Linked DNA regions of Homo sapiens. The protein of the gene in region 5 purifies or fractionates together with the protein of the main gene of each other region. This does not show direct contact. Each region holds a gene or a part of one and is shown on either strand. Other genes may lie near its edges. The genes, in order: SGF29, MALT1, SUPT6H, STK26, VBP1, TTC33 and GSPT1.

The links.
Region 1: the proteins of VBP1 (region 5) and SGF29 purify together in Homo sapiens (affinity purification with mass spectrometry; 2 studies listed by BioGRID and IntAct, with this or other methods). This does not show direct contact.
Region 2: the proteins of VBP1 (region 5) and MALT1 purify together in Homo sapiens (affinity purification with mass spectrometry; one large-scale study listed by BioGRID and IntAct). This does not show direct contact.
Region 3: the proteins of VBP1 (region 5) and SUPT6H purify together in Homo sapiens (affinity purification with mass spectrometry; 2 studies listed by BioGRID and IntAct, with this or other methods). This does not show direct contact.
Region 4: the proteins of VBP1 (region 5) and STK26 purify together in Homo sapiens (affinity purification with mass spectrometry; 2 studies listed by BioGRID and IntAct, with this or other methods). This does not show direct contact.
Region 6: the proteins of VBP1 (region 5) and TTC33 purify together in Homo sapiens (affinity purification with mass spectrometry, with the first as the bait; one large-scale study listed by BioGRID). This does not show direct contact.
Region 7: the proteins of VBP1 (region 5) and GSPT1 purify together in Homo sapiens (affinity purification with mass spectrometry; 2 studies listed by BioGRID and IntAct, with this or other methods). This does not show direct contact.

What each region holds. Positions count from the first base shown.
Region 1 is NC_000016.10:28,588,279-28,592,400, reverse strand, and holds the end of SGF29 (SAGA-associated factor 29), read right to left. Parts: intron 3,302-4,122; coding exon 3,237-3,301; intron 2,306-3,236; coding exon 2,176-2,305; intron 2,106-2,175; coding exon 1,959-2,105; intron 1,771-1,958; coding exon 1,735-1,770; exon of another isoform or gene 1,730-1,734; intron 1,629-1,729; coding exon 1,466-1,628; intron 1,361-1,465; coding exon of another isoform or gene 1,349-1,360; exon of another isoform or gene 812-1,348; coding exon 695-811; 3' UTR 611-694; downstream 1-610. Other genes in the region: SULT1A2 (sulfotransferase 1A2), read left to right, coding at 1-138, 261-373. UniProt on the Homo sapiens protein: Chromatin reader component of some histone acetyltransferase (HAT) SAGA-type complexes like the TFTC-HAT, ATAC or STAGA complexes.
Region 2 is NC_000018.10:58,674,236-58,678,357, reverse strand, and holds part of MALT1 (mucosa-associated lymphoid tissue lymphoma translocation protein 1), read right to left. Parts: intron 749-4,122; exon of another isoform or gene 712-748; intron 1-711. UniProt on the Homo sapiens protein: Protease that enhances BCL10-induced activation: acts via formation of CBM complexes that channel adaptive and innate immune signaling downstream of CARD domain-containing proteins (CARD9, CARD11 and CARD14) to activate NF-kappa-B and MAP kinase p38 pathways which stimulate expression of genes encoding pro-inflammatory cytokines and chemokines.
Region 3 is NC_000017.11:28,664,685-28,668,806, reverse strand, and holds part of SUPT6H (transcription elongation factor SPT6), read right to left. Parts: intron 275-4,122; exon of another isoform or gene 177-274; intron 159-176; exon of another isoform or gene 1-158.
Region 4 is NC_000023.11:132,071,467-132,075,588, forward strand, and holds part of STK26 (serine/threonine-protein kinase 26), read left to right. Parts: intron 1-801; coding exon 802-895; intron 896-1,346; coding exon 1,347-1,409; intron 1,410-1,490; coding exon 1,491-1,627; intron 1,628-2,668; coding exon 2,669-2,693; 3' UTR 2,694-4,122. UniProt on the Homo sapiens protein: Serine/threonine-protein kinase that acts as a mediator of cell growth. Modulates apoptosis. In association with STK24 negatively regulates Golgi reorientation in polarized cell migration upon RHO activation.
Region 5 is NC_000023.11:155,222,809-155,226,930, reverse strand, and holds part of VBP1 (prefoldin subunit 3), read right to left. Parts: intron 1-4,122. UniProt on the Homo sapiens protein: Binds specifically to cytosolic chaperonin (c-CPN) and transfers target proteins to it. Binds to nascent polypeptide chain and promotes folding in an environment in which there are many competing pathways for nonnative proteins.
Region 6 is NC_000005.10:40,724,705-40,728,826, forward strand, and holds part of TTC33 (tetratricopeptide repeat protein 33), read right to left. Parts: intron 3,773-4,122; coding exon 3,641-3,772; intron 1-3,640.
Region 7 is NC_000016.10:11,909,179-11,913,300, forward strand, and holds part of GSPT1 (eukaryotic peptide chain release factor GTP-binding subunit ERF3A), read right to left. Parts: intron 1-4,122. UniProt on the Homo sapiens protein: GTPase component of the eRF1-eRF3-GTP ternary complex, a ternary complex that mediates translation termination in response to the termination codons UAA, UAG and UGA.

The DNA.
Region 1 (4,122 bases), on a different chromosome or scaffold from region 5:
GCTCCCTGCCAGAGGAGACTGTGGACCTCATGGTTGAGCACACGTCGTTCAAGGAGATGAAGAAGAACCCTATGACCAACTACACCACCGTCCGCCGGGAGTTCATGGACCACAGCATCTCCCCCTTCATGAGGAAAGGTAGGTGCCGGCCAGCACGGGGGTTTGGAGCAGGTGGGAGCAGCAGCTGGAGCCTCCCCATAGGCACTCGGGGCCTCCCCTGGGATGAGACTCCAGCTTTGCTCCCTGCCTTCCTCCCCCAGGCATGGCTGGGGACTGGAAGACCACCTTCACCGTGGCGCAGAATGAGCGCTTCGATGCGGACTATGCGAAGAAGATGGCAGGCTGCAGCCTCAGCTTCCGCTCTGAGCTGTGAGAGGGGTTCCTGGAGTCACTGCAGAGGGAGTGTGCGAATCAAGCCTGACCAAGAGGCTCCAGAATAAAGTATGATTTGTGTTCAATGCAGAGTCTCTATTCCAAGCCAAGAGAAACCCTGAGCTGAAAGAGTGATCGCCCACTGGGGCCAAATACGGCCACCTCCCCGCTCCAGCTCCTCAACTTGCCCTGTTTGGAGAGGGGAGAGGGTCTGGAGAAGTAAAACCCAGGAGACGAGTAGAGGGGGAATGTGTTTAATCCCAGCACGTCCTCTGCTGTCCTGCCCTGTGTCGTTGGGGGATGGCGAGTCTGCCAGGCGGCATCACTTTTTCTTGGGTTCCTTACAAGCCACCACGTATCTCTGAGCCACATTGAGGGGAGGGGAATAGCCATCTGCATAGGAGGTGTCTTCAAACAGGACCGAGTAGTCATCCTGGGGCTGTGGGGCAGGCAGACAGGAGGGGCTGCTCAGAGACCCCCAGGCCAGGACAGGCACCCCCTTCCCCCAGCCTAGACCACAGGAGGCTCTGGGCCGTGGACTCTCAGCCACTCCTAACATCCTTCACTCTGGGGTCAAGAAGTCTTGGCCCAGTCCCTGCTGCTACAGAGCTCTTTTCTCAGTGGCTGGAGACCCAAGGCAGGGAATAGGCAGGGAGGAGTAGGGGTGCTGACTCCCTTCCTAGTGGGGTCATAGCTGGAGGGTCTGCTGCCTTTCAAGGACTCTTTGTTGAGAGGACTGAGGGCAACCCAGAGGGTGGCAGGCAGGGATCCTGGCCTCAGGTGGCTTGTGTCCCATGTCACCAAGAGCACAAGGCGGTAGGAGCCCAGGGCTCAGGGCAGGAGCTTCCCATCTCGGAGCTGGTTCTCCTGGGGCTGGAAGCCACTGACTCGGGGCTTGCCAAGGCTGCCAGGGCTGGCAAAGGGATGGTGGCCTTTGGGGCTGGAGTGGAAGAGGGAGGGCAGCTGGTGGGTCCTGTCAGCTTGGAGCCTGTGAGATGAGGACAAAGGGAAGGAGTGGGGAGAGGACCCCTCGTCTGTCTGATCAGCCTGTTCCTGACATCACCCATGGCCTCTCCCCTGGAGGCTGCTTTACCCGCTGTGGGGGCGCATGGATCAGGGCGCGGTAGAAGCAGGTAGTCTGGGGATACAGGGCCAGCACGAGCTGCTCCTTCTGGAACAAGGCCTCAGGGTCCGTCTCCGGGTTGGCCTTCCACTGGGGCAGCGGGATGACACGGCGCCGGCTCAGGGTGTGTCTCCTGGGGGAAGAGGGGCTTATATCAACCTGTGGCCGGGTGGGGATGCTCCTTCTCAGCTGTTAGGCTGCCCCCAGGCTCCATGCCCTGCCCTGGCCTGGACACTCACTCTTTGCCTTCTTCATCGATGTCATCTACCTCATACCTGCAGACAAAAGGAGGAAAAGGCTGGATGCAGCCAGGGGCGCAGTACCTGTTGGGGAGTGAGGATGGGGGAGGACCTGGTGCTCCCTGCACAACCAGCCTCTGGGGAGCACCCTCTGCAGAGCTTTTCTCCCGTAGCCCAGGCAAGTTCGGTGACCAGAGAGCAGCCCCAGGGTTGGTGTCACTCACTTGTTGGTGGCATGGCTGTAACTGACCACCTCGGCCAGGATCCACTGCTCGTCCCCATCCACGGCCTTCACCCGGGCAGCCACCTTGTCTCCAGGTCTGGCCACGTAGTCTCCTGAGGCAGGGATGGCCCCACAGAGGGGTGGGGGCCTGTGAGTGGAACAAAGGGTCAGTCCCAGCCCCTGGGCACCAGCCCCTCCCTCGCAGCTGCTGCCCTCACTTGTCACCAGGCTTCCCGATCCACAGGGGCAGGGTCATGGCCGACTGCTGCAGCAGGGTCATCAGCACCCCTCTGCGCATGGTCTTCCGGGGTGGCTCCGAGTCATTGTAGAGACCGGCAATCTTGGCCGCTGTGGGAAGGAAGGGAGGCCTGAGGCCCCAGGGATAGGTGCCGGCCTTGACCCCCGAGCATGCTGCACTGAGCTGTTGAAGGAGCACCTGGGAGCCCCCAGTTCCCGAGTGAGCCCGAGGGCCCAGCAGGACTGTGACCCCATCGGCCATGTGTCAGCACCTATAGGGGCTGCTGGGTTTAACTACAGTTGGGTGAGATGGCAGCACAGCGGGGATCCAGGGGGAGGAACCAGAAGAAAGAAAGCGGGTTCCAAGGTGCTGTTCAGGCTGTGTTTGCTGATCTGAATGCTGGTTACAGAAGTGTGTTCAGTTAGTGACTATTTCATTGAACTCTGCACTTATGTGTACTTTTCTTCTATTAATATACATTGTAATTCAACAGAAAGTTAAAAAAACCAAAAAAAAAATTAAATGTGCACCTTCAACCTCCTCAGGCACAGCTGGACACCCCACTTGACTTCACACAGAACCAGCATGGCTGTGTGGGGACACTGACATGCCAAGATTCTGCCCACCATGGGATTGTTGGGAGGGCAGACAGGTAGGAGAGCCTAATGCAGGCTGAGGGGGTCTGGAAGGCTGGCTTTACGACACACAGCGTGTGGCTCTGCAGAAACCAGCCAGGGCAACAGATGGGCATGGGCCATGGCAGAGGAGGGGGCGACTGGCCCAGGCCCCAGAAGGGGCAGGAGATGAGGGGCCAGGGCGGGATGATCTCTGGCTGCTGAGGGAGAACTGGGAAACCCCTGCCTCTGGGCACTGGGAATGACCTCCTGTCCCTTCTCAGTGGTAGAGCCAGTCTGCCAGAGCCTCCATGGGAGGATGCCAGCAGGTGGTGGCCACAGGCCCCCACAGGAGGGTGACTGCTGCCCGCAGGGCCTCTCCTCTTGTCCTAGCAAAGGACCTCCCAGCATGTTCTCTCCCACTCACCAATCCGCCTCTCTTCCAACAGAGACTTGATTTCCGCGATCTTGTCCAGAGCTTTCCGAAGGATGCTGAGGGCGGGGAGAAGGGAGAAAGAGGGTTTGGTTAACGTACATAGCATAGACTTCTCTTCCATTTTTTCTGTTTTGGGTCAAGCTACATTGCCCAGGCTGGTCCCGGACTCCAGAGGTTCTCACAGTAGCCTCCTGCGCAGGTGGAATGACAGGTGTGTGCAGGTTCCTGTTCTGGTCAAGGTGGGCTGGGTTATTCAGACCAACCTCATGGTGAAACTAGAAATCTGCCCGGGTGTGGTGGTTCACGCCTGTAATCCCAGCACTTTGGGAGGCCGAGGAGTGTGGATCACCTGAGGTCAGGAGTTCAAGACCAGCCTGACCAATATGGTGAAACCCCGTCTGTATTAAAAATACAAAACTTAGCCAGGTGTGGTGGCGAGCGTCTTTAACTGTAATCCCACCTACTTGGGAGGCTGAGGCAAGAGAATCGCTTGAACCTGGGAGGCAGAGGTTGCAGTGAACCGAGATCGCGTCATTGCACTCCAACCTGGGCAAAAAGAACGAAACTCCATTTCAAAAAAAAAAAGAAAACTGGAAATCTTCAGTATGTGTCTTTTAGTCTTAAGAACATAAAAAACAAGGTGGTAGAAAGCAGCATGCCAAAAACTAAGAGAACACAGGATCCCAGAGAGGAAAGGACACAGGCAAACTGCCTTCGGCAAACCCTGCAGAAAGGCTGCAGGAACCTCCTGAAATGAGGAGAGGGGGCCTCAGGTCTGCCCGAGGGTCACACAAAAGGAGGGGAGACTCTGGGGAGAGGTGCTGGCCCAGAGCAGAACTGGGTGGAAGGACCTCATCCTTTCTGAAAGGCTGAACCC
Region 2 (4,122 bases), on a different chromosome or scaffold from region 5:
GCTGAAAGCCTGAACAGATGCAAGAGGTGAAACATAATAGTGCCAGGGTGTGACAGAATCAAGGTTAGCAAACTATTTTATTGCTTGAAATATTAATCCTCATTCATTTTGAGTAGTCTTATGAAGATGCTGTCATAGCATTTATACTGTTACCCAAGATTTAAAATTCAGTGATAATGTTGATTATTTCATATGGAAAAAATGTATACGATCAAATTAATTTCATTAGTAATATTATCTACCTCATAGGGTTGTTAGAATTAAATAGCTAATCCATGTAAGAAGTGCTTAACACAGTGCTTGGCAAGTAACAGACATTCAATAAAGGTTAGCTCTTATTATGCAATAAGAATATGGGGATATTAAAAGAATATTAAAGCTAACTTCTTAACTATGCTTATTTCTGAAACAATTTTAGCTTTTCCTTAAACATTTTTTTGAGTAACTATTATTTTGGTAACCTGAAAATGTCCTCTAAGGCCTCCTGTGATCACTATATTTACTAGGTATTCTTTTCTAAGCATCCTAGTTCAATTTTATTATATTCAATATGCCATTCTTGTTAAATGTGAATCATCATATCACAAGTCAACCAGTCTCAAATTCTGGACTGTAGACCAGTGGCAGCACAATCTGCAGTCCAAGGTAAAATGATAAAAATAAGGACAATAAAGCTGTCTTTTATTCTAAAATTGTCTTTTCCATTTTTAGGTGTTAAAGTGTTCTTTCTTTTAAGAAACAATGGTGACTATGATGACAGAAAACATAAAAAGGTGAAGCTGCCTGTTAGTGCTCTTATTTTGTGAAATTTTATTTTACTAGTTTCTGAAATACCCAAGTGAAAGAACCTGTATTAGAAACAATACAAGGATTACTAATTTTGTAAATAATTAGAATGAGATTTGTAAAAATAGGGATGCTGTATGCTAAATATAATTTTTATGATTCAGAAGTTTACCAGGATCTGATAAATGAAATTAAGAAGCCATCTCATCAAATGCAACCAAGTGATGCTTTAATTAATGTCTATATTGATATAGAGAAAATTAAAAACACTTGGCTTTCCTTCCCCCCCAAAAGAACAAAGATCAAATTGAAGTACAGATGATTTCTCTTCCATTACAAGAGGCACAGGAGAAAAAGAAGACTCTGTATCTCTTTTTGTTTTTACTGATTTTCCGTATGGGCACTGGCTTTCAGCTAAGATGATGCTTATACATACCTAACTTTTCTTTCTTTCCTTTTTAAGTTACATTCCTGTAAGAGTGTGCTTTGAAGTAGTTTCTGAAAGTCCTAATTTAGAATTTTTGATTTAATTTAAAAACTGCTTTATGACTGAAACAAATGTACTTTACTTTTTAAAAATATCTCTATTTTTATCTTTAAAAAAATATATAATCAAATAGAATGTATTATACACCCTTTAGGGGACAAACCATAATGCTGTTTTTAGGTTCTTCTGCTTCTCCTCTTGGTACATTTACTATTTGGAATCTTTATTCATTAATTTGATCTATTTCTCCATCACCTAAAATAGGCCACTGTTTTTTCTAGGTGTTGAGGATACAGCAGCAAACAAAACAAAATTCTGTATCTTCCTGGATCTTTCATTCTAGAGAAGTACAGACATAAATTTAAATAAACACAGAGATATCTTTTTGTGTATGTATCCAACTAACCAATGGTCTTAAGTGTTGTGGAGGTAACGCAAGTAGACAGGTAACACTGAGCAGATGTAGAGGGTAATTTTAAATATTATGATCAGAGAAGAGCTCAGTGAGGTGAACAAGTCATGTGGTTACCTGTGGAGACCATCTCAGCCTGAGTAGGCAGCAAGTACAAAGACTACTGTGTCCAAAGGAAGGCAAGAAAGCACATGTGACCAGAGTAGAGAGGGATGGAGACAAGAAGATATCAGGTTGAAGAGTGAACTGGTAGCTAATGGTGTTTTTACTCTGAGATGGAAAAACAATAGGAGAGTTGGCATTTTTTTTTAATGGGGTCTATCTATGTTGCTCAGGCTGGTTTTGAAGTCCTAGGCATAAGTAATCCTCCCACCCTGGCCTCCCAAAGTGCTGGGATTACAGGTGTGAGGCTACCACGCCTGGCCACAATAGGAGAGTTTTGAGCAGAGGAGGAATAAGACCTGATGTGATGTTTTAAAAGAATAATTCTTACTGCTATATTGGTAACAGACTGGGGTGGGAGCAAAGCAAAACAGGGAGAAGTTAAGTGGCTACTGGAATAATCTAGTTGAGAGACAACGTGGCTTGGCCCAGCGTGCCAGCAGTGGACATTGGATTCTACATATATATAGTGAAGGTACAGCAGGAAGGATGGGCTGACAAAAACGATTTGTGTGTAAAAGTGGAGTCAGGAATGAATTCGAAGTTTTTGGACTGAACAACCAGAGGGTGCAGAAACTGAAAGAAAGAGGTTTATAAGGGAAGACGTGTTAAATTTTGGACATGTTATATTTAAGACGTGTCTTAGTCATTCAAGAGAAGATGGCAAACAAGTGTTTACATACGTGAATCTAGGAGTTCAAAGCAGAGAAATGGGCTGGAAATAGAAATTAGGAGTAATCAACCCAAATAAATGTAAAGTCATGGGACTGAAGGATAAGACCAAGAGGGCGAGAAGGAAACCTTTTTTAGTTTATTTGTTTTAGAGACAAGGTCTTCTCTGTCGACCATGCTGGAGGTTGACAATACCTAAATCAATAAAATTCTGTCTTGTCCATATTAATTATTCATAAATGAATGATTACTGAATGAATTTCAATAATAATTGTTGAGGCTCACTGCAGCCTCGAACTCCTGGGCTCAAGCAATCCCACCTCAGCCTGCAGAGTAGCTGGGACTACAGGCCTGTGCCACTATGCCTGGCTAATTTTTTGTTTTTTTGTAGAAACAGGGTCTCAGTATGTTTCCCAGGCTGGGAGGAAACCTTCTGTTAGAGCCTTTTACACGTTCTCATTCCTATAATAAACTGCATGAAAGCAGGATTTCTGCAGCTAAAAGTGCACCTTCTACTCAGCAGGTATGCAATGACTGTTTTTCCATGGTCCAGGTTCCACAGCCCCATTTCTAAGCTCCCTACTTAACAGAATTTTAGGCAGCATTTAGAACCTCCTGGAAGGTCTGCCATCCTTAGGGCTCAGATGTTCCATGCCACCAAAGAATTTACATAGCTTGGGCAAGACCCTCAGAGTCTGTGTCTATCTACACTAACAGCAAAGGGTGTCCAGGTCAGTCTTGAATGGAATCAGGGCCGGGTCTGACTATAGCACATTCCCAAATGTACATGGTTGTGGGGAACTAAGCTATCAACAAGGATTTACTCTGAGTCATCAGCAATGAAAACATTTACAATTATTTCTAATCTCTTGTAGACAGTTTGAACGGGCTCTTTTCTTGTGGTTTACTTATTTGTATTATTAAATTTTCACCCAGTTTGAGGAAAGATGTAAAGTGTCAGAAAAAAAAGTGAAGAGAAGAAAAAGAAACAGAATGGGCAACATTTCGAGATTCTAGGGCTGCAGATCCAGTGACTGAAGAAAGCACTTCACAGCCTCGTGGGACTTGTCACCCACACGGACTAGACACTCACACTATAATTCCTGTCTTTGGCACCAGAGAAAAAATACCTTTAGGACCTTCTAGTATCACAGATCTTCTCCCAACAGCATGAAATCACTTTACAATAACTTTTTTGTCTTAAATAGAGTAAGCATCCCCAGCTGACCTTGCTTCACTGTCCAGCCCCCAAGCTCCCAGTGCTGTTTTTTGAAAAAAAGTCCGTTTAATTCTTCTGATCTCCATAGGGATGAGCTTAACGTTCCCAAATTCTCCAACCCTTCTCACCCCAGCCAACCTCCTCAAAACTAATCTTTACCATCTTGAAAGACAGGTGAAACTCATCTGCCTCTCATCAGACTTCCCACCCCAAATTCTCAGATTCCACAACTGCATGCCCTTTGTGCTTGCCACCTCTTGTTAGGCAACTGTCCCCTTCTCTCTGTGTGACTCCACAGAAAAGTGGCCTCAAATATTTCCTTTAGTTCCCCCAAACAAAGCTAAGACCATTTTGTAGCCTTTAACAAAAACTGACTGAAGGCAG
Region 3 (4,122 bases), on a different chromosome or scaffold from region 5:
GAACTGAGCCATTAAAAACAGATTTGAGTACGGCAGCCCCCACACATAGCTTGTTCTAATTAGGCTATCAGACCCACAAGTTCAATCTTTTAAGGCCTCAACATCTTCAAATTAAATGCCAGCTCCTGCAGACCAGATGCCCCTCAGCCTACTTAACAGAGAAACACACAGCCTACCTGATGAAAACAACAGCTTTCTTCTGTCTCAAGGGCAGCTGGTGCTCCATGCTGCACACAGCTTGGAAAGATAGCTGTGTTCTCTTTCTTCCCATCGCCTAGGTTAGCAATAAAGCACACACTATGCTATAGCTGGGGAATGCCTCCAATCTAGCTCAATACCAAGACTTCCAGTTATAAGAGGTGTGCCAGAAGCAATTCTGACTTGCTGCAACTTGCAGGAGCTAGATGTGCAGACTGCAGTAGCACTGCAGTCTGAGACTGACAAGCGGGAACTACTCTAGAATAAAGACACTAATGTATTTATTTGTGTATGATTATTATTAATACATGGTATCTATGATGAGCCTGATGTAGTTTGGATGTTGTATTTAGCACTTATGCTCTTAAAATTTTCCCCATACTCACACTGTAAGTTAAATTTGCAACTGGAATAGGTCTAGAAGGGCAGTGGGGAGATGGAGGGAGAGGTTTCTCTAGTCAGAAGCACAGCTGCAGAACAAGATGTGGCTCAATGGGAGAGGCTGGTGGTTACCATGACATTCGCTGGAAGAGGAATGGAACTGGGATCAGATTGCCACAAGGGAGGCCCTCTGCAGTCCCTCCCTTTGAACAAGAAGTTGTAGTAGGCAATTAAGAGGAGACCAGAGTGAAAAGAGATCTAGTCTGTTAATTCCTTCCACTTTGCAGCTTCAATTAACATTTGCTGGGTTTTTTTTTTTTAGAGTCAAGCTCTGTGCTGGGACTTGTGTATATAAAAATGAGTAAAATATGCTTCCTACCCCGGTGGAGTTCACAGTCTTGGTGGAGTTCACAATCTATCTCAAAAAACTTGTTAATAACGTTATGACAAAGCACAATAGGGTTATGTTAAGTTATATAACTGGACTATGAGAGCAATGGGAAGGTTGGGGAATATCTGAGAAAAGGTGATGCCTGAATAAAAGAGGATTTAAGAAAACAGTCTGGAAAAAGGCAACATGAGCAAACATTTAGGCGTGGTGCTCTGGAGAACAGCCCCAGAAGTCTAGGGTGGAGTTTAAGCTACAAGACATTCCATGTTGTCTTGTATCATATATACATATATATATATAAAACACACACACACACACGTATTTATATATATATACACATATACATATATACACACACATATATACACATATACATACATATGTATACACACACACATACATATATATATATATATATATATATATATATACACACACACACTTTTTTTTTTTTTTTTTTTTTTTTGAGACGGAGTCTTGCTCAGTTACCCAGGCTGGAGTGCAGTGGCATGATCTGGGCTCACTGCAAGCTCCGCCTCCTGGGGTCACGCCATTCTCCTGCCTCAACCTCCCAAGCAGCTGGGACTACAGGTGCCCACCACCACGCCCAGCTATTTTTTTTTTTTTGTATTTTTAGTAGAGACGGGGTTTCACCGTGTTAGCCAGGATAGTCTCAATCTCCTGACCTTGTGATCCGCCCGTCTCAGCCTCTCATAGTGCTGGGATTACACTTGTATCCTATATTTTATGGGCAAGGGACTAGGACTATTCCAAAGGTATCCATAAGTGAATATCCAATTTGGAATTTCAAAACCTAAAAGTTTAATAGATAAAAGTATTTAGAGTCTACTTAAGTCCTTTTAAATCTGGAATTCAGAAGGCTTTGTAATTAAAAAAACCCTGAAAACCTAATTACATGAAGTCAAGATGTTAAAATACAGAAAAAGTTAATTTTGTTCATTTAAAAATATTATTTATTCGGCTGGGCGCGGTGGCTCACGCCTATAATGCCAGCACTTTGGGAGGCTGAGGCAGGCTGATCACTTCAGGTCAGGTCAGACGCTCGAGACCAGCCTGGCCAGCATGATGAAACCCTGTCTCCACTAAAAATACAAAAATTAGCCGGGTGTGGTGGTGCACGCCTGTAATCCCAGCTACTCAGGAGGCTGAGGCAGGAGAATCGCTTGAACGTGGGAGTCAGAGCTTGCAGTGAGTCGAGATCATGCCATTGCACTCCAGCCAAGGTGACAGAGCGAGACTCCGTCTCAAAAAAAAAAAAAAAAAAAGTATTCCTTTTCTTTCCACATTTCTTTAGAGAAACAGGGTAAGGGCTAAAGAAGAGTACAACTGAAATATGTAACCAGATTCAGAACCCCTGCAACACAAAGAGAGATTAACAGTTACTGAACCTTGTGGTACACACATTGAGGAGCGCATAGTTCCTGCTCTAGCACAGGGGTTGGCAAACCTTTCCTTTTCTCTATAGGGCCAAATCTGCCACTGTAGCACAGCATACATAACATGTAAATGAATGGGGGTGACCTTATTTGGCTCACAGGCCTTAGTTTGTGACCCCTGATTTAGAGAATTGATGATAAGAATAGCATGGGATCCTGTAATAAGACAACCTAACCTGGTTTTGAGGAAGTGACTTTAAACAAAGACCTTAAGAGTAAGGAGGAATTAGTTCAGCAGAGGAGCTGGCTTCTTTGGAGATGGTTTGGGGAGTGATGTCAGAGACGTGTGCTTCTAGCACAACACGTGTACTGTGGCAGGTACAGAGAAGGCCCAGGAGAGGAAGAATGGTTCATAAGGGTTGGAGAAGTCATAAGGATCTAGGCACTGGGAAGCCATTGCAGGGTTTTAAATGTAGAACTGAACTTAATCTACTTGCTAATCCAACAAAAACTTATTATTTTCTGAGATGGGGTCCTGCTCTGTCACCCAGACTGGAGTGCAGTGGTGTGATTACATCTCACTGCAGCCTCCACCTCCTGGGCTCAAGCCATAATCTCACCTCAGCCTCCCAGGTAGCTAGGACAAATACATATACATATACATATACGTTTTTTTGAGACAGAGTCTCGCTCCATTGCCCAGGCTTGGAGTGTAGTGGCACGATCTCAGCTCACTGCAACCTCCGCCTCCCAGGTTCAAGCAATTCTCCTGCCTCAGCCTCCCAAGTAGCTGGGATTACAGGCACCCACCACCACGTCCAGCTAATTTTTTCTTTGTATCTTTAACAGAGACGGGGTTTCACCATGTTGGCCAGCCTGGGCTCGAGCTCCTGACCTCAGGTGATCCGCCTGCCTCAGCCTCCCAAAGTGTTGGGATTATAGGCGTGAACCACCATGCCTGGCATAAATATGTATTTAATGAGTGCCTACCACATGCCAGGCACGTACAAGACTAGGTCCATGCCCCTAGGATGCCCGTATTCTGGTGCAGGAGACATATTGGCAACAAATAAAATAAACCTTGCTCTAAAAGCGAAGAAGGAAATGCATATTCTCATCTCATCTAAAGTGAGTTTACTTAGGCTGAGATGTCAATAGGTAGGATATGACCTGTAGAAGTAGGAGGAGAGGTTCCAGTAGAGAAAGTGGGCAAGAACATGGTATATAATAGGTGATGTCCTGAGGCTGATGGCACTAGAGCATGGTGAAGGCAGCAGCCTATGAGGGAGAGGTATGCTCAAGCAGGGCGTAAAGGCCATGGAAAGTCACTGGAGAGTTTTAAGTAGGGAAATGACATGATCTGCCCTGATCCAATTCTGTTACATGGAAAATGAACTGGAGGAAGATCTGAGTGGAAACCAGGGAAAACTGAAGATACTGTTGTGGTAGCCCAGGCAAAAGATGGTGGTGGCTTGGAATAAGGTGGTAAAAGTGAAGATGGAGAATAGAAGACAGATTACAAAAACATTCTGCAAGTGGAAGTGACAAGACTTACTGAAAGACTGGGGAAGAGGAGTAGTAAAGGAGAAGAACAAAGATGATTCTCAGAGGTCTATCTTTGGTAACCCTGCGGATAGGAGCACCACTCAGTGAAACGGGAGGATAAGGTTTGCAATGATGAGAAAACCAAAACTTTCTTTTGGTTATGTTAGCTTTGGGTGCCTAAGAAATATCCAAATGGAGATAATTAAACAG
Region 4 (4,122 bases), about 23 Mb from region 5:
TATTACAAAATTTTGGAACAGGATTCAATTAAAGGTGTTATATTAGTTTGCTCAAAGTAATAAGGAGCTGTGTTTTCTCATACTTTGATGGCAACCTGCAAAATCCCTCTAAAGAACTGACCTCCAGGCTTTTCCCACCTCTTGGCCATGTACCAAACCAAGATCAGACTGATACATTTAAATATTCATTTATGCATGATTTTTATTTCTTGAAAAAGTTGTAGGGTTTTATAACAGCAGCGTTTACATTAAAAATTCAGCCTCTAAGTCTGTCAATTAATTTAGACTAGGAAAGTCTGTATGCTATGCCAGAATTTAGTCCTCCACCAGCTGAACTGGCACAAAGGCAACACCAAATTTCTTTAGATACTACTCTGAGATTCTTCCATTTATGAGAAATTGTCCAATGTTGGAAAGGGATAAAAAATATCAGAATAATTTGTGCCCTATTCTAATGGGTGTTAGCCTTAGCTTCCCATAAGAGTCACTCATGGAACCTTAAAGCAATCACAAGCCACACCACTGGAGATCCTGATTCAATAGGTGGGGAGTAGTGAGGGACAGGTATTTATCTATGGTAGGAGGTCTCAATGAAGCACACACAGAGTTGAGAACCACTCCACTACTACTCTGTAGTAAAATGTAGTATTCGCCTGAAGCTGAGATCAGATGCTTTTTTGCATCATGAGTTTTTAAACATTGGGACAATTATCCCTTTAGATTCTACCTGCATTGATTTGGTATTTTTGCCAAGCTGAATCATTTGGGCACTTATAGAGGTATCTTTGGCAATCTCTTTAGGGAATCTACCAGCAGGGAAAACAATACTCATCCTGAATGGAGCTTTACCACCGTACGAAAGAAGCCTGATCCAAAGAAAGTACAGAATGGGGCAGTATGTATATGGAGACAATTACTTACTCTTCATACAGTTTTTCAAACCATGTAGTGAGATGATAATGGCCTAAAATTGTTAGGATTGAATACCCCTAAATGCCTGTCTGCCTCACTGTGTTTGTAGTATGCTTCATTTGTCATTAGTTTTGAGCTAATTAAGAAAAGTTAATAGAAGTTATTTAAGTGGCCATATTGGTATTTTTTAAGTGCATTTCACCTGGAGATACATAAGCCCAGGGAATCATAGGTATCTATTGTAATCCCAGAAGTTAGAGGACTTCTGGATGATGAATGAGAATGAATGATAGGAAGAAAGCTTAGAGACTTGCCTTGCATACAATCTTTTGTTTTCAGTAGGGGATTCAAATTAGTTCGTATTTGTTAAAGAATAAGAAAATCATGACACTTATTTTAATTTCATGTGTATAATCTATATTATTTGTTCAAAGGAGCAAGATCTTGTGCAAACCCTGAGTTGTTTGTCTATGATAATCACACCTGCATTTGCTGAAGTAAGTACAGATTAATTAGCCTTGGATATCTGTGTTAAGTAGTATAATATTTTAAATGTTTTAACTATTATTCTTTCTCAGCTTAAACAGCAGGACGAGAATAACGCTAGCAGGAATCAGGCGATTGAAGAACTCGAGAAAAGTATTGCTGTGGCTGAAGCCGCCTGTCCCGGCATCACAGATAAAATGGTGAAGAAACTAATTGAAAAATTTCAAAAGTAAGTTGGAAATGTCATTTTAAAAATTATTTTGCATTTTCTGTTGTATGTTAATTTATGATGCAATGTAATTCCTTTGATTCAACCATTCCAATTATTCCTAACAAAGTCACCTTTCAATACATAGTTGTATACTTAAAAATAGTTTTTGTCTGTTGTCTATCTTAAACATTAGCTTTTAGAATGATTATCTTTAGGCATGACAAGGTAGTTTTCCACTGCATGAAATGACCTGTTTTTCTTTCTCCACTAGTAGGATTATAGACAAAAGGTCACTGAGCATATTCTCATTTGAGCTCTTATTAATATAATTGTGGAATGCTTTCTTTCTTGCCACTACCCTCAGAATTTAACAAAACACCACTAGTTGCATAGTTTCCAGTGCTAAAGTTCCTACGTTTGATCTCCATATGAAAAGTTAAGGAAAAGGTAGAGGGACTCAATCCAGACCAAAAAAGGGCTCTTATGTTCAACTTCAGTTTCTATGTTGTCTCTTGAAATATTCATTTGATTTTGTTCGCATTCAAAAAAGTTCTTACATTTAATTTTTTAAAAAATTTTCAACAAGACTTTTGTATGCATGCACACATATACACTCCTTAGCTCAAGCAAGCTATAAGGTGATACTGATTTTAGCCTTGACCCTGCTATATCTCTTCTCAGTGCATCTTTATATTTCTTTGTGTTTGTGATGCCACTGGGATCGAGATGGAACAAACTCTGTGACCTGTGAAATCACACACTCTCAAAGATCTTTCTATCTGATAAGGCTCACTTGTACTCGCAAACCTAACCCCCTCTTAAAATCCCTTATATTTTAATGAAAACCCCCCATTTGAAAACAAATCAATCGGAAGTTGTGAAATCAGATGCAGAAGGGATTTTTTAACTTGTTTATATTTTAACATCTACATGATAAGATTCAATAGAAACAATGTATCCCTTTTGTGGAATCAGTTTCTTCATTGCAGAGTTCATACAAAGGAGAAATATAAACATGCATAGTTGTACATTGGTTTAAATTTTTTAAAAATTTTATAGGTGTTCAGCAGACGAATCCCCCTAAGAAACTTATTATTGGCTTCTGTTTCATATGGACCCAGAGAGCCCCACCAAACCTACGTCAAGATTAACAATGCTTAACCCATGAGCTCCATGTGCCTTTTGGATCTTTGCAACACTGAAGATTTGGAAGAAGCTATTAAACTATTTTGTGATGGCGTTTATCATTTTATATTTTGAAAGGATTATTTTGTAAGGAATAACTTTTAATACTATAGTTTCACCTGTATTCTAGTAAATGTTGAGACACCGTTTTGCTTTTAAGTATCCCTATTTCTTAAGTTACGAGGATGAATACCTTTCACATTTTGATCTTTAGTTGACTCTACAGTCATGAAACATACAGGTCTTTCAAAGTCATTCTCAATATTCAGCTTTTGTAAATTATCAAGCTTCAAAAAGCTTTTTTTTTTAAAAAAAAACATGCATATTCTAAAAATGACTATTGGTGGGGAGGTGTAAATAAGTCATACCTTCTTAAAACAGAAAATTTAAGTAAAGTCTTTTAAATGAAACCTGTAAAAGTATTGACTCTTCTACCAAGTTGGTATGATATTCCAGGCAGCTCAATGATTATCACATTTGAGACCCTGTGTTTGAAGCATTTACAGGCAATGTACAGCAACAGAGGTACCTCTTGGTGTATAGTATTTACATTCTCTTTTAGGTAGAAGAGGCAATTTTACCCTTATTTCACATGGTTAGAAATTTAAAGCAAGATCATTTACCCAAGGATAGGTGTTTGGTAATGTTGAAGGAGTTAGTCTGGCTTCATGTTTTACATCTTCAACTAAAATCCCATACTATCTGCTTGGATTTGGAGAGCCAAAAAATAAAGCTGATTGTCATGTGATTAAATATCTGATCAACAGGTATGAATATAACTTAAATCAGCATATTTTTGCCATGGTAATAAATTGTCCTATAAACTATTTATATATTTTTGTTCTTCATAATTATCACTAATAAGCATCAGTTTGTTGTTTTTAAAAGGATATTTAAGTGAGCATTTTCTAGTTCATATGAAAATAACCATAGTACAGGATGATTTCTGTCCACACAAAGGTTAAATTAGATTGCACAGTTAATTTTCACTTATATTTATGGTACTATTATGTGGGTGATGCCTTTTTCTTTTAAGCCCAGTACATATATTATGCCTGCCTAAGTTCTGAACTGGGGCTGTATTTCAGTAGTTGTAGAATTATTGATATTTAGTTTTGATAGCTAATGTTTAATTGTTTGGATCTGCACAGTTTGGTTTTTGCACAAAAGTCATTTAAAAAAATCTGAGTAATTGTCAAATATTAAAAGAAAGATATTCTTCCTGTAAGGAATACAGTTTTTAGTCAAAGTGGCCATTACATCCTCTTTTTAATTTACATAATACAGATACTTGAGAAAGTTGTTGTGGTGTTGTATGCCAAGAAAAT
Region 5 (4,122 bases):
TGAAGACAAAGCTCTGTTCTATTATGTCAAATACCCCATGGCTATTTAACATTTCTAGAGCAGACTATATTCCACAGAGGTGATTCATAGGTTCTGCATTTGATTAGAATGAAATTTTAAATAGATTAATTTTAAAACTAATTTTAAAAATAACATGGATTCAAAAGTTACATTCTAAAATAGAAGACACCAATCCCCTATCCAGTGATGCACATAGCTACTCCTGGTGTGTGCATTGGGTATACACACATGTACATCACAGTCAGCTAAATGCCAGGCAAAGCACAGTGACACCTTCTCAGTATGTGCACTTGTCACACTGTGAAAAATGTACAGAATCATCTGAATGCCAAACACACCACATTATGATACAGTATAATTTAGTGATTCTTTTAAGCTTTGGGTATTTCTTCCTTAACTTTTATGTTGATAAATGCTCTTCTTTTCAAATGAGGTAACGATCGTTCTTAAAATTATAAATGGATCACTGATTTAAACACAAGAAATTTAAAAAAACAATGATGGACATGATACAACTGATCCGACTTAATGGATAAGTTATATGATAGCTACTAGCAAAATGCTAGTAAGTGACTCCCAAATGCAATCAACCTCACTGACAAGAACATAAGAGAAAAACAGTATGCTAAAAACATTCAGTCAATTAAAGAGAGAAAACAATGATACCGTTTTTGTCACTGGGGTTTAGCTCTTTATGGTAATTAGATGCATGTGTTTTGCATGGAGATATATGCAAAACAGTTCTAGGGTCTCTGTCAAATGTAATTTCTAGCAAAACAGACTAAGGATATAAAAACGAAGCTCTGGTTCTTTCGAGGTAAATTTACTAAATATTATTAGAGACCAAAATGTAAACAAAATATAAACACAACAATGAAAATGAACTTATTGCGTCACATAAAAGAAGTCACTCCATGTGTGCAGCAGGTTGGCAGGGCAAATTTACTACACCCTGTGCTACTGACCTGGCAAGAAATGTGTTAAATGAGCCTGCTGCTTAAGAAAAAAACATAGTGTCATCATTTGATAATACAGTCCAGTGAATAATCTAGAAACACCTAGCATTCATTTTTTCACTACAATTCAATCTGGATGCCATAGATTGCTCAAGTTTGCTTATTTTTGCATGATATGTTCATATAGGTAAACAGAAAGATGTTATACATTTGTAAAATATGTGATACACACACAACATAAGGAGTATGTTCAGATCAAGATTTTTTGTCATGTAAATGACTTTTAAGATGCATTCTGTATATATAAATATTATATGTAATATGCTATAAAGCATATTAATGAATCAATCAGATGCAGCCCTAGCTAACTTAGGAACCAGACCACCAATGACACAGCACATGCCCAAGCAATACACTCCTCCCTACCCTGCTTCACCTGAAGAGAAAGTAGCTTGGCTGGGCACAGTGATTCACGCCTGTAATCCCAGCACTTTGGGAGGCCGAAGCGGGTGGATCACCTGAGGCCAGGAGTTCGAGACCGGCCTGGCCAGCATGGTGAAACTCAGTCTCTACTAAAAAAAAATACAAAAAAATTAGCTGGGCGTGGTGGTGCATGCTTGTAATCCCAGCTACTTGGGAAGTTGAGGCGGGAGGATCCCTTGAATCCAGGAGGTGGAGGTTGCAGTGAGCCGAGGTAGCGCCACTGCTACCCACCAGGAGTGACTTAAATTACCCCCACCTCCACGTACATTACTGGCCAAAGTAGCTGATATCCCTGAGGGAATCTAAGCTGACAGGGAAAAGACATTATAATTTGATCATTATAATAAATAAAGACAATAAATTCAACAACCTCTACCATATGAAACAAAATTAACAAATACCAAAAGATAAAACTATACATTAAATACTTAAAGATACCACAAAGAGAAAAGAAAGGATATTGGTAATATGAAGAGGAACCAACCAGAACTACCAGCTATAAAAATCTTAACAGCTGAAACAAAGAACTCATGGCTATCCATCTAATTGCCAAAAGATAAATGACAAAGACAGAAAAAAGGGAAATAATATAAATAAATGGAAGGCAGAATTAGAAGTGTCAACATCTGTAAACAGGAATCCCAGAAAGAAAGAGGAAAAAAAATTAACAGACGATAGAAAAAGTGATAATCACAAAATTTCCAATTAAAGAAAGATAAAAGATCTCAGATTCAAGTGTCGAAAAAGAGATTAACACATGAAATACTAAGGAACTTTTACACAGCTTGAAGGGTAAAGTTAAATGACAGGCTGCAAGATTTACAACACATACAAAGAAAAAGGCTAGCCTCACCCTCACCCTCGCCCTCGCCCTCTTTGCATGGTCTCCCTCTGATGCCGAGCCGAGGCTGGACTGTACTGCCGCCATCTCGACTCACTGCAACCTCCCTGACTGATTCTCCTGCCTCAGCCTGCCGAGTGCCTGGGATTGCAGGCACGCGCCACCACGCCTGACTGGTTTTCGTATTTTTTTGGTGGAGACAGGGTTTCGCTGTGTTGGCCGGGCTGGTCTCCAGCTCCTGACCGCGAGTGATCTGCCAGCCTCGGCCTCCCGAGGTGCCGGGATTGCAGACGGAGTCTCGCTCACTCAGTGCTCAATGGTGCCCAGGCTGGAGTGCAGTGGCGTGATCTCGGCTCGCTACAACCTCCACCTCCCAGCCGCCTGCCTTGGCCTCCCAAAGTGCCGAGATTGCAGCCTCTGCCCGGCCGCCACCCCATCTGGGAAGTGAGGAGCGTCTCTGCCTGGCCGCCCATCGTCTGGGATGTGAGGAGCCCCTCTGCCCGGCCGCCCACTCTGGGAAGTGAGGAGCGCCTCTTCCAGGCCGTCATCCCGTCTAGGAAGTGAGGAGCGTCTCTGCCCGGCCGCCCATCCTCTGAGATGTGGGGAGCGCCTCTGCCCAGCCACCCCGTCTGAGATGTGAAGAGCACCTCTGCCCCGCCGCCACCCCGTCTGGGAGGTGAGGAGCGTCTCTGACCAGCCACCCCGTCTGAGAGGTGAGGAGCCCCTCCGCCCGGCAGCCGCCCCATCTGAGAAGTGAGGAGCCCCTCCGCCTGGCAGCCGCCCCGTCCGGCAGGTGGGGGGCAGCCCCCGCCCGGCCAGCCGCCCCGTCCGGGAGGTGGGGGGGTGCCTCTGCCCGGCCGCCCCGTCTGGGAAGTGAGGAGCCCCTCTGCCCGGCCGCCACCCCGTCTGGGAGGTGTACCCAACAGCTCGTTGAGAACGGGCCATGATGACGATGGAGGTTTTGTCGAATAGAGAAGGGGGAAATGTGGGGAAAGGAAGGAGAGATCAGATTGTTGCTGTGTCTGTGTGGAAAGAGGTGGACATGGGAGACTCCATTTTGTTCTGTACTAGGAAAAATTCTTCTGCCTTGGGATGCTGTTAATCTATAACCTTACCCCCAACCCCGTGCTCTCTGAAACATGTGCTGTGTCCACTCAGGGTTAAATGGATTAAGGGCGGTGCAAGATGTGCTTTGTTAAACACATGCTTGAAGGCAGCATGCTCGTTAAGAGTCATCACCACTCCCTAATCTCAAGTACCCAGGGACACAAACACTGCGGAAGGCGGCAGGGCCCTCTGCCTAGGAAAACCAGAGACCTTTGTTCACATGTTTACCTGCTGACCTTCCCTCCACTATTGTCCTATGACCCTGCCAAATCCCCCTCTCCGAGAAACACCCAAGAATGATCAATACTAAAAAAATTAAAAAAAGAAAGAAATAGGCTGAACTCACTTATGAACAGAAATTCAAAAATCCTAAATAAAATAATAGCAAATTGAAAAAAAAAAAAAACAAAAAGGCTAGCATGTAAACTACATAGAGCCATCTGCTGCAAAACAACTAGATCATGACACAAAAATAGTTTTGTTGCATAGCTGACATCATAGGAGTGAGAGAAATTCCAGAAAAATAAAAAGAGAAAAGTAGCCCTCCAACTACTTGGGAGGCTGAGATGGAAGAATTGCTTGAACCCAGGAGGTCAAGGCTGCAGTGAGCTGTGATCACACCACCGCACTCTGGCCTGGGCAACAGAGAGAAAGCCTGTCTCAAAAAAATGACCAACCCACTATTAAAATAGGTAAAACTCAAGAAAATTTTCC
Region 6 (4,122 bases), on a different chromosome or scaffold from region 5:
AGAAAAAAACTCAATTCTTAAGTGTCAACATACAACATTTATAAAGACTATAATTCAAGAATTTGTACTATTCAATTATAAAAAAGATAATGCAGCTTGACTCAAACAATGTCTACAGTAATTAACTAAACTAAAAATTTACAAGTGGATTTTTTTTTTTTTTTTTGAGATGGAGTCTCACTCTGTCACTCATGCTGGAGTGCAGTGGTGCGATCTCAGCTCACTGCAACCTCCACCTGCCAGGTTCAAGATATTCTCCTGCCTCCTGAGTAGCTGGAACTACAGGCACACACCACCATGCCTGGCTAATTTTTGTATTTTTAGTAGAGACGACGTTTCACCATGTTGGCCAGGCTGGTCTCAAAACTCCTGACCTCAGGTGATCAACCCACCTCAGCCTCCCAACATGCTGGGATTACAGGCATGAGCCACCATGCCCAGCCAAATTTTTTTTTTTTTTTTTTGTAAATATAGGATCTTGCCATGCTACCCAGGTTGGTCCAAACTCCTGGCCTCAAGCAATCCTTCTGCCTCAGCCTCCCAAAGTGCTGAGATTATACGCGTGAGCCAGGATGCCCAGCCCCTCAAGTGAAATTTTAAAAACTCTCAATCATCTTCCTTTTGTCTGGAAATTATCACTTGTCCATCCCATTACTACCATTACAAAAGCGAAACAATAAAAAGAATCAAATGATGCAACTGAAATTTCTAATTAAAGATTTGCTCATGCAAAATATTAAAACCAATGGCTAAAATGAGACTTGGAAAACAGAGAAAACATTAGTAAACAAAATTAGTATTTATTGCACATTGGCATGAAGAAAAGCAAAAGCTGGCAATGAATTACACAGAGCCCGAAGAAGGGAAGCCACAAAGCTAGTTCCAGCACTGAAGGCTGAGAACCCTGGAAAGCCAACAGAAGAATCCTTCCTGATACTGTTACCTCCTGGTATTCATTACCTTTCCCAGTCTCCTTCCCTCTCTACCTTCTTCTTCAGGATAAATCCCTTATGTATTCCTTTCTCACCATCCCCATTCCCTCATACAGAATTTTTAACTCCCAGAACCATTCTCTTCAGCTTTTTTTTTTTTTTTTTTTTGAGACAGGTCTTGCTCTGTCACCCAGGCTGGAGTGCAGTGGCGCGATCTCAGCTCACTGCAAGCTCCGCCTCCCAGGTTCACGCCATTCTCCTGCCTCAGCCTCCCGAGCAGCTGGGACTACAGGCGCCCGCCACCACGTCCAGCTAATTTTTTGTATTTTTAGTAGAGACGGGGTTTCACCGTGTTAGCCAGGATGGTCTCAATCTCCTGACCTTGTGATCCGCCCGCCTCGGCCTCCCAAAGTGCTGGGATTACAGACTTGAGCCACCGCGCCTGGCTTCAGCTTTCTTATTCTCTCATCCTTCCACTTCTTAAAATCTCATTCTCATAAAGTCTTTTATATATATATATATATACACACACACACACGTATATATATATAAAATGTATACCATATACATACATATTTTATATATATATATCTCCTATAAACATTTTCCAATGTTCACATCCAACTCTTACAAAGTTTAAATAATTATTCATGGAGATATACCCAACTACTGACTTTTAATTTACTGCCTGTGCTATTTACATACATAATTTCCTATGGTTTTAGTCCATATGTATATATAGTAAGAATTGTTAGATATTAGAAATTCTAGCTTGCTTTCAATATATTTTACATAGTGTCCCTTCGTTATGACATTTTGAGTCATCTTTTTTTTTTACCATTCTAGTCTTTTAAGAGAACAGCTTAAATCTACATAAAAACAGAGAAGATTCCTAAAAATTACATTTAAATGGCAAAAAAAAAATACTTTCAATTCTTCTAAGAATTTCACAGTATTAATGAATAGAGCCATATCAACAGAAAAAAAAAAAGTCGAACTGGTACTCTTATTCAAAAAAATTTAAATATTAAATTATTTTTATTGGATGATTCAAAGTATCTCCGTCTCACCTGCAGTGTATTTTCTTTCTTTATAAAGGACAATCTTTACTAAATATTATGTCCTAGAGATTTGTTCCATTACCATAGACACTATTGGCAAAAGAGATAGTGATGTATAAATTTTTAATAAGGGAGGCAAGGAAAAAGTATTATATGATAGGGTTTTCTTCCCCTGTTAATGTTAGAAAACTAAATTCTTTGAACTCTTTTTTCCAACTCTGGTATGATTTAAGTCTTCATGTAAAAAGAGAGAAGTTGACAGTGCTAAATGGCAAGAAAAAAACAGTACTTGGTTAAAATGGTTTCTATCACTGTGAATCTCATTTAGATTATCATTAACTTACTTTAATCAAATCAATTATTTTCTCATACAAATTCCTTACTATTTCTGAGAATTTGACAAACACCTTTTTTGGTAAGTAGAAATAATGATACATTTATAAGAATGCCAGAAAAAAAGCTCAGTCATCCACAATTTACTAAAACCACTGTTAGTAAGTTTATATTTTGAATTTATCAGTAATTTTAGTCTTGCAAGAAACTTTTAAAATGTTTTATTTTGAACTGTAAAAAATAAAACCATTTTTAAAATCTTAATTTACTTAATAACAAGGAGGAAATTTGGCACTGTATATTAGATTTGCAAACACTTGTTAGGAAGTTAAATTTCGTTAGCTATCAGGTGTATATAGCCCTGCCAAAAGAAAAACAACAGGACAGCTGTCACAGCTAATTCTTACCTAGATAGCCTCTGCTACTAACAAGGTATAGTCCAGACAAATTGAGAGATGCATTAGGTACCAGTTTACGGTAAACATTACACAATGAGTATTTCATTTGCACACATTTCTACTCTTCCTCTTTATCCCCTCAATAAGCCTAACAACTTTTCAGTCTAAATGTTCATCACCATTACCCTCCCATATTCTACTGTCTTCCTTCCCCTGTATAATCTATCAGCGGTTTTGTCTCCACAGTGATACTAATACCACTTTATAATGTGGTAAATGTAATGATCCAAAGAACTAAGCCAAAAAGTTGCCTATTGTCTATTTAAATAAGGTTTACCAAATGCCAATGTTTTATGTTAAATTTTTTTTAATATCCATGATGTCAAGTAACTGAAAAATATTCTGATCATGATATAATTAGTGTCTATAATAAAAAAGATGTTCAGTAATACCTGTGAACTGTGTTTATGGATTAATACCTTTAAGAAGTAATTTGCTAATTGTTTTTTGTATAGACTTGATAAACGGCTATTCACTTTTGGGTTCAGTTAATCAAAAATATGTCAAAATAGACTGGGCATGTTGGCTCACGCCTGTAATCCCAGCACTTTGGGAGGCCGAGGCTGGAGAATCATTTGAGGTCAAAAGTTAAAGACCAGCCTGACTAACATGGTGACACCCCGTCTCTACTAAAAATACAAAAACATTAGCCAGGCATGGTGGCGCATGCCTATAGTCCCAGCTACACAGGAGGCTGAGACAGGAGAATCGCTTGAACCCAGGAGGCGGAGGTTGCCGTGAGCTGAGATTGCACCACTGCACTGTACCCTGGGTGACATCAAGACTCCATCTCAAAAAAAAAAAAAAGTCAAAATATACTTAAAATTTCTGCATTATAATAATCTGACTTCCTCACCAGGATTATCTCTCCTAAACCAAGTTGAGCACGTCCCAAAGTCTGCCAAGACTCCCATGAATGTGGATTTTGCTGGACGGCCATTTCTGCTGCATGTACTGCTGGGAACATTTCATGAAGAGACATTAGCACCTATAGGCAAAAAAAGACCAAAAAATCTGTCAGTAATATTCATAAACTAGCAACTACATAAAAAACCCTTTTCATTTTTTAAGATATATTTTTAGTCCAGTAAAAATAGCATTTCGGTGATTTTTACCCCTTACTCTGCCATTCAGGGTAAGAAATTATAGTTCTCTTTTCACCCCTTATATAACTATGAAAATGTAAACGATTCCCTTTCCAGTTATTGAATCTTATGTCCATCTGGTCAAAACCAAGTGGTCATATCCTAACTATGGTGGCTCAGAGGTATTTTGAACTCCCAATTCCACTTCCATTTATTCTATTTACAATGTGGTTTTCAGGGAACCCCAGGTATT
Region 7 (4,122 bases), on a different chromosome or scaffold from region 5:
GGGAAAGCCTTATTAAGTGTTCTTCTCTCTTTGAAAGTAGAATTATGATGGGAAACTGGTTCAACTTAGAGTACTGTAACAACTAGGTTTCCTTAGAACAAAGCCATTTACGAAGGAGCCATATAAATCTACAGTCTCGGCTCACTTTGTTAAACTCTACTGAAAACAAGGCAGAAACTTCTAAGCCTTGAAATGAATCAACAATCAACAGCTAAAAACTGTCAGTTTTCTTGATTGTTCTGAGGACCTCAGATCCTTCAACTAGTAGCCAAATTCTTGTCTCCCGAAGATATTTTAAAACCAAGGGTAGAATGATGAAATTCTAAACATGCCCCAATAGACACACTAGCCAGACTCATAGTAACTGAACTCACTGCTGTTTAATACGAAATAGACAAGTACTGTAAAAAGATAACCAGTGCTCTACCTTCAGCACTCTCGACAAACTTAAAAATACAAAACTTGGCCAGGCACAGTGGCTCTCGCCTGTAATCCCAGCATTTTGGGAGGCCGAGACGGGTGGATCACTTGAGGTCAAGAGTTCGAGACCAGCCTGGGCAACATGGTGAAACCTCATCTCTACTAAAAATACAAAAATTAGCTGGGCGTGGTGGCGGGCACCTGTAATCTCAGCTACTTGGGAAGCTGAGGCAGAACAATCGCTTGAACCTGGGGAGGCAGAGGTTACGGTGAGCCGAGTTAGGGCCACTGCACTCCAGCCTGTGACAGAGCGAAACTCCATCTCAAAAAACAAAAACAAACAAAAAAACTTAGCCAGGCGTCATGGTGGGTGCCTATAGTCCTAGCTACTCAGGAAGCTGAGGTGAAAGATCACTTGAGCCCAGGGATTTGAAGTTACGATGAGCTATAATCACACAATTATACTCCAGCTTGGGTGACAAAGTAAGATCCCGTCTCTAAAAAATAATAAGTAAAAAGTTTTTTAAAATACACACAACCTTGGTGATCAGGCTTTGGCTGCAACTCTGGCCCAGGAGGCCAGAAAAAAAAATACACACAAGGCATTCGCAAAGAACAGTGAGCAGATAATAGATAAATCTTTAGTTTTATGAGAGTGACAAGACTGAGAGGTTTTACGTAAGGGATTGCTGTTCTCGGCTTTGAAAGCCTTCTCTACACTCTCTGCAGGGCTCACTTACCACACTGTGACTTCCACTAGAGTACACTGGGCATCTGATCCCTTTCTAGATTCCTTCAGGACCACAATTTATTCATCTTGGTGTTATTTCAAGTGCCTAGCATAGCATCTTTCATTCAGTGGACTGGTAAATGTTTGTTAATGAGTCGCTAGTACATATATCTGAGCAAAACCAGAAATTCGCATTTCTGGAAAAAAATTCCATTCCAATACTGCTAACTCAACCCAGAAGGTTATCAAATCTCTTTTTCATTCCTTTCTCTTCAACCAGAAAGAAAATACTATCTGAACACTTTCAGACATTTCTTCCCCAGCAAACCAAAGCAAGCAAATCAAGGCTTAAACTTTGTCGTCTACATTACTTCCTTAACTTGTTCAAACTGAAATTGCTGTCTTTTCACGCTGTGCAACTTCAGAAAAGGTAAAAAATAAAGAACAGAAGAATGCAATAAGATATGTACTGACAGCACTACGTAATACCTGCTCCAAAGAGGGTTTTTACACCAGTCAAAAATTCTAACAGTTTAAACAACTGCTCAACTTGGCACAGCACAGCCCTAGATGATGCCTTCGCTTCTTCCCTAAATCCTCAGTCTCAAGCCATTCATACGTGTAAAACCATGAAACAAGAGACAAAAAGGTCAGCCATGGCAGGAGAAGTAACGAAAGGCAGTGTTTACTACTGTGATACTCCAGGGATACTGTGGGGCCTCTCCTCTACCCCATCTGCTGTCCCACTGAAGCCTAAAAACACCTTTATATGAGCACTGTTCTTGCAGGCACTTCAGTCTCAAAAACACATTCTCAAATACAGAATCTTACCTATTATCTACCTCAACAGATAGAATTTAACATATTAATAAAGTGTAAGGGCCTTTCTGGATTAAACAACCATTACTTTGATTTGGAATCCTCTCTACTCTGGTGGCCCTGAAGAGGTCACTTCTGAGATGTTCCAGCTTAAAACTGAGAATATTCTAAAAAGCATCTGCCAAGTGGTGATGGTTGCATAACCTTACAAATATATTAAAAGCCACTGAACTGTATGTACACTTTACTTTTCTTTTTGGACAGTGTCTCATTTGGTCACCCAGGCTGAGTGCAATGGTGCCATCATAGCTCACTGCAGCCTCCAGCTCCTGGGCTCAAGAGATCCTCCCACCTCAACCTCCCAAGTAGCTGGGACTACAGGTTTGTGCCACCACACCCAGCTATTTTTTTTTTTTTTTTTTTTTGAGACAGAGTGTCAATGTCGCCCAGGCTAGAGTGCAGTGGTGTGATCTCGGCTCACTGCAACCTCCGCCTCCCAGATTCAAGTGATTCTCCTGCCTCAGCCTCCCCAGTAGCTGGGACTACGGGCGCGCACCACCATGCCTGGCTAATTTTTATATTTTTAATAGAGACAGGTTTCGCCACGTTGGCCAGGCTGGTCTCGAACTCCTGACCTCAGGTGATCCGTCCACCTCGGCCTCCCAAAGTGCTGGGATTACAGGCATGAGCCACTGCACCCAGCTGTATTTTTTTTTTTTTTTTTTTTTTTTTTTTTGTGGAGACAGGGTCTCAGTCTCACTATGTTTTATGGAGGCCTCAGGCAATCCTCTCACCTCAGCCTCCCAGAGTGTTGGGTTTATAAGTGTGAGCCAATGCGCCCAGCTTGTACAGTTGAAAAGGGTGAATTTTACAGTGTGTAAGTTAAATGTCAATCATTTAAAAAAAAAAAAAAAAAAGGCCAGGCGCGGTCACACCTGTAATCCCGGCACTTTGGGAGGCCAAGGCGGGCAGATCACCTGAGGTCAAGAGTTCAAGACCAGCCTAGCCAACATGGTGAAACCCCATCCCTGCAAAAACACACACACACAAAATAGCTGGGCATGATGGCAGGTGCCTGTAATCCCAGCTACTCGGGAGGCTGAGGCAGGAGAATTGCTTGAACCTGGGAGGAGGAGGTTGTAGTCAGCCGAGATCGTGCCATTGCACTCCAGCCTGGGCAACAGAGCAAGACTCCGTCTCAAAAAAAAAAAAAAACAAAAAAAAAACCTCCTCTTCCAATAAATAAGGCATTCAGCAAATACGGAACACTACAAAACAGAATGTTTCTCTTTAAAATTCAAGTTCCACAATACAATCTGCTAAGTTTTGGAGACAGTGCCTCCTCCAAGTAAGTACTGAGGGCTGCTGGTTTTATTCCATGCTTGTTTCTTAATGGCAGTGAGTTCTGAGAAGCATTAAAGGTGGGATGATGCAAAGAACACCACATCATTACTTTAGAAGCTCTGGCTGTTCTAAAAAGTTCAAGTAACCCTAAAATTACTAAACCAGTTTCTTATCTAACAATAAAAAAAACTAGGTGCAAATTGCAACTTAAATACATCCTATCAGATAAAATGCTTGTTCTAATATACATTAAGCCTTGTCTTCTATATTTTTATTCACTTGGGGACCTCACTTTTTAAGGAGAATCTCTTGGCCAATTTACTTGGCTCTAGAGAACTGTGCTTAAATGAATTACACTTAATTACACTTAAATGGGTTCCACTTAATTATTTCTTAAGGAACCTATATTCTTTAGTTTTCAAAGAGATCCAAGGTCAATACTGAATCCCAAGGTCTGACTCTCCAGGCTCCTTCAACAGCTTTCCCGGCATGCAGTTTAAAAACACACCCAGCACAAATTTCGGCTATGGCTTAACTAAAGAACAGAACATGCTAGCCCTATTGTCCACTTCCTCGCTATCAAAAAAACCTTGCAAACTTTTTGGTTCCCCCTTTGTAAGTTCCAATCCAGGTGTTATTTCCTATTTATCCCCCTGCTTTTTATAAGCACTGATTGTTCTCCGATGCTGGCTTTTTATGGACTTAATAGTCTGGAACATGCAATCCAACAGTCTCAATATAACCCTGGACCTCAACTTAGAAAATCAGTTCTTTTCCAAATAGACATCCTACATAGGATAATTTTTTAA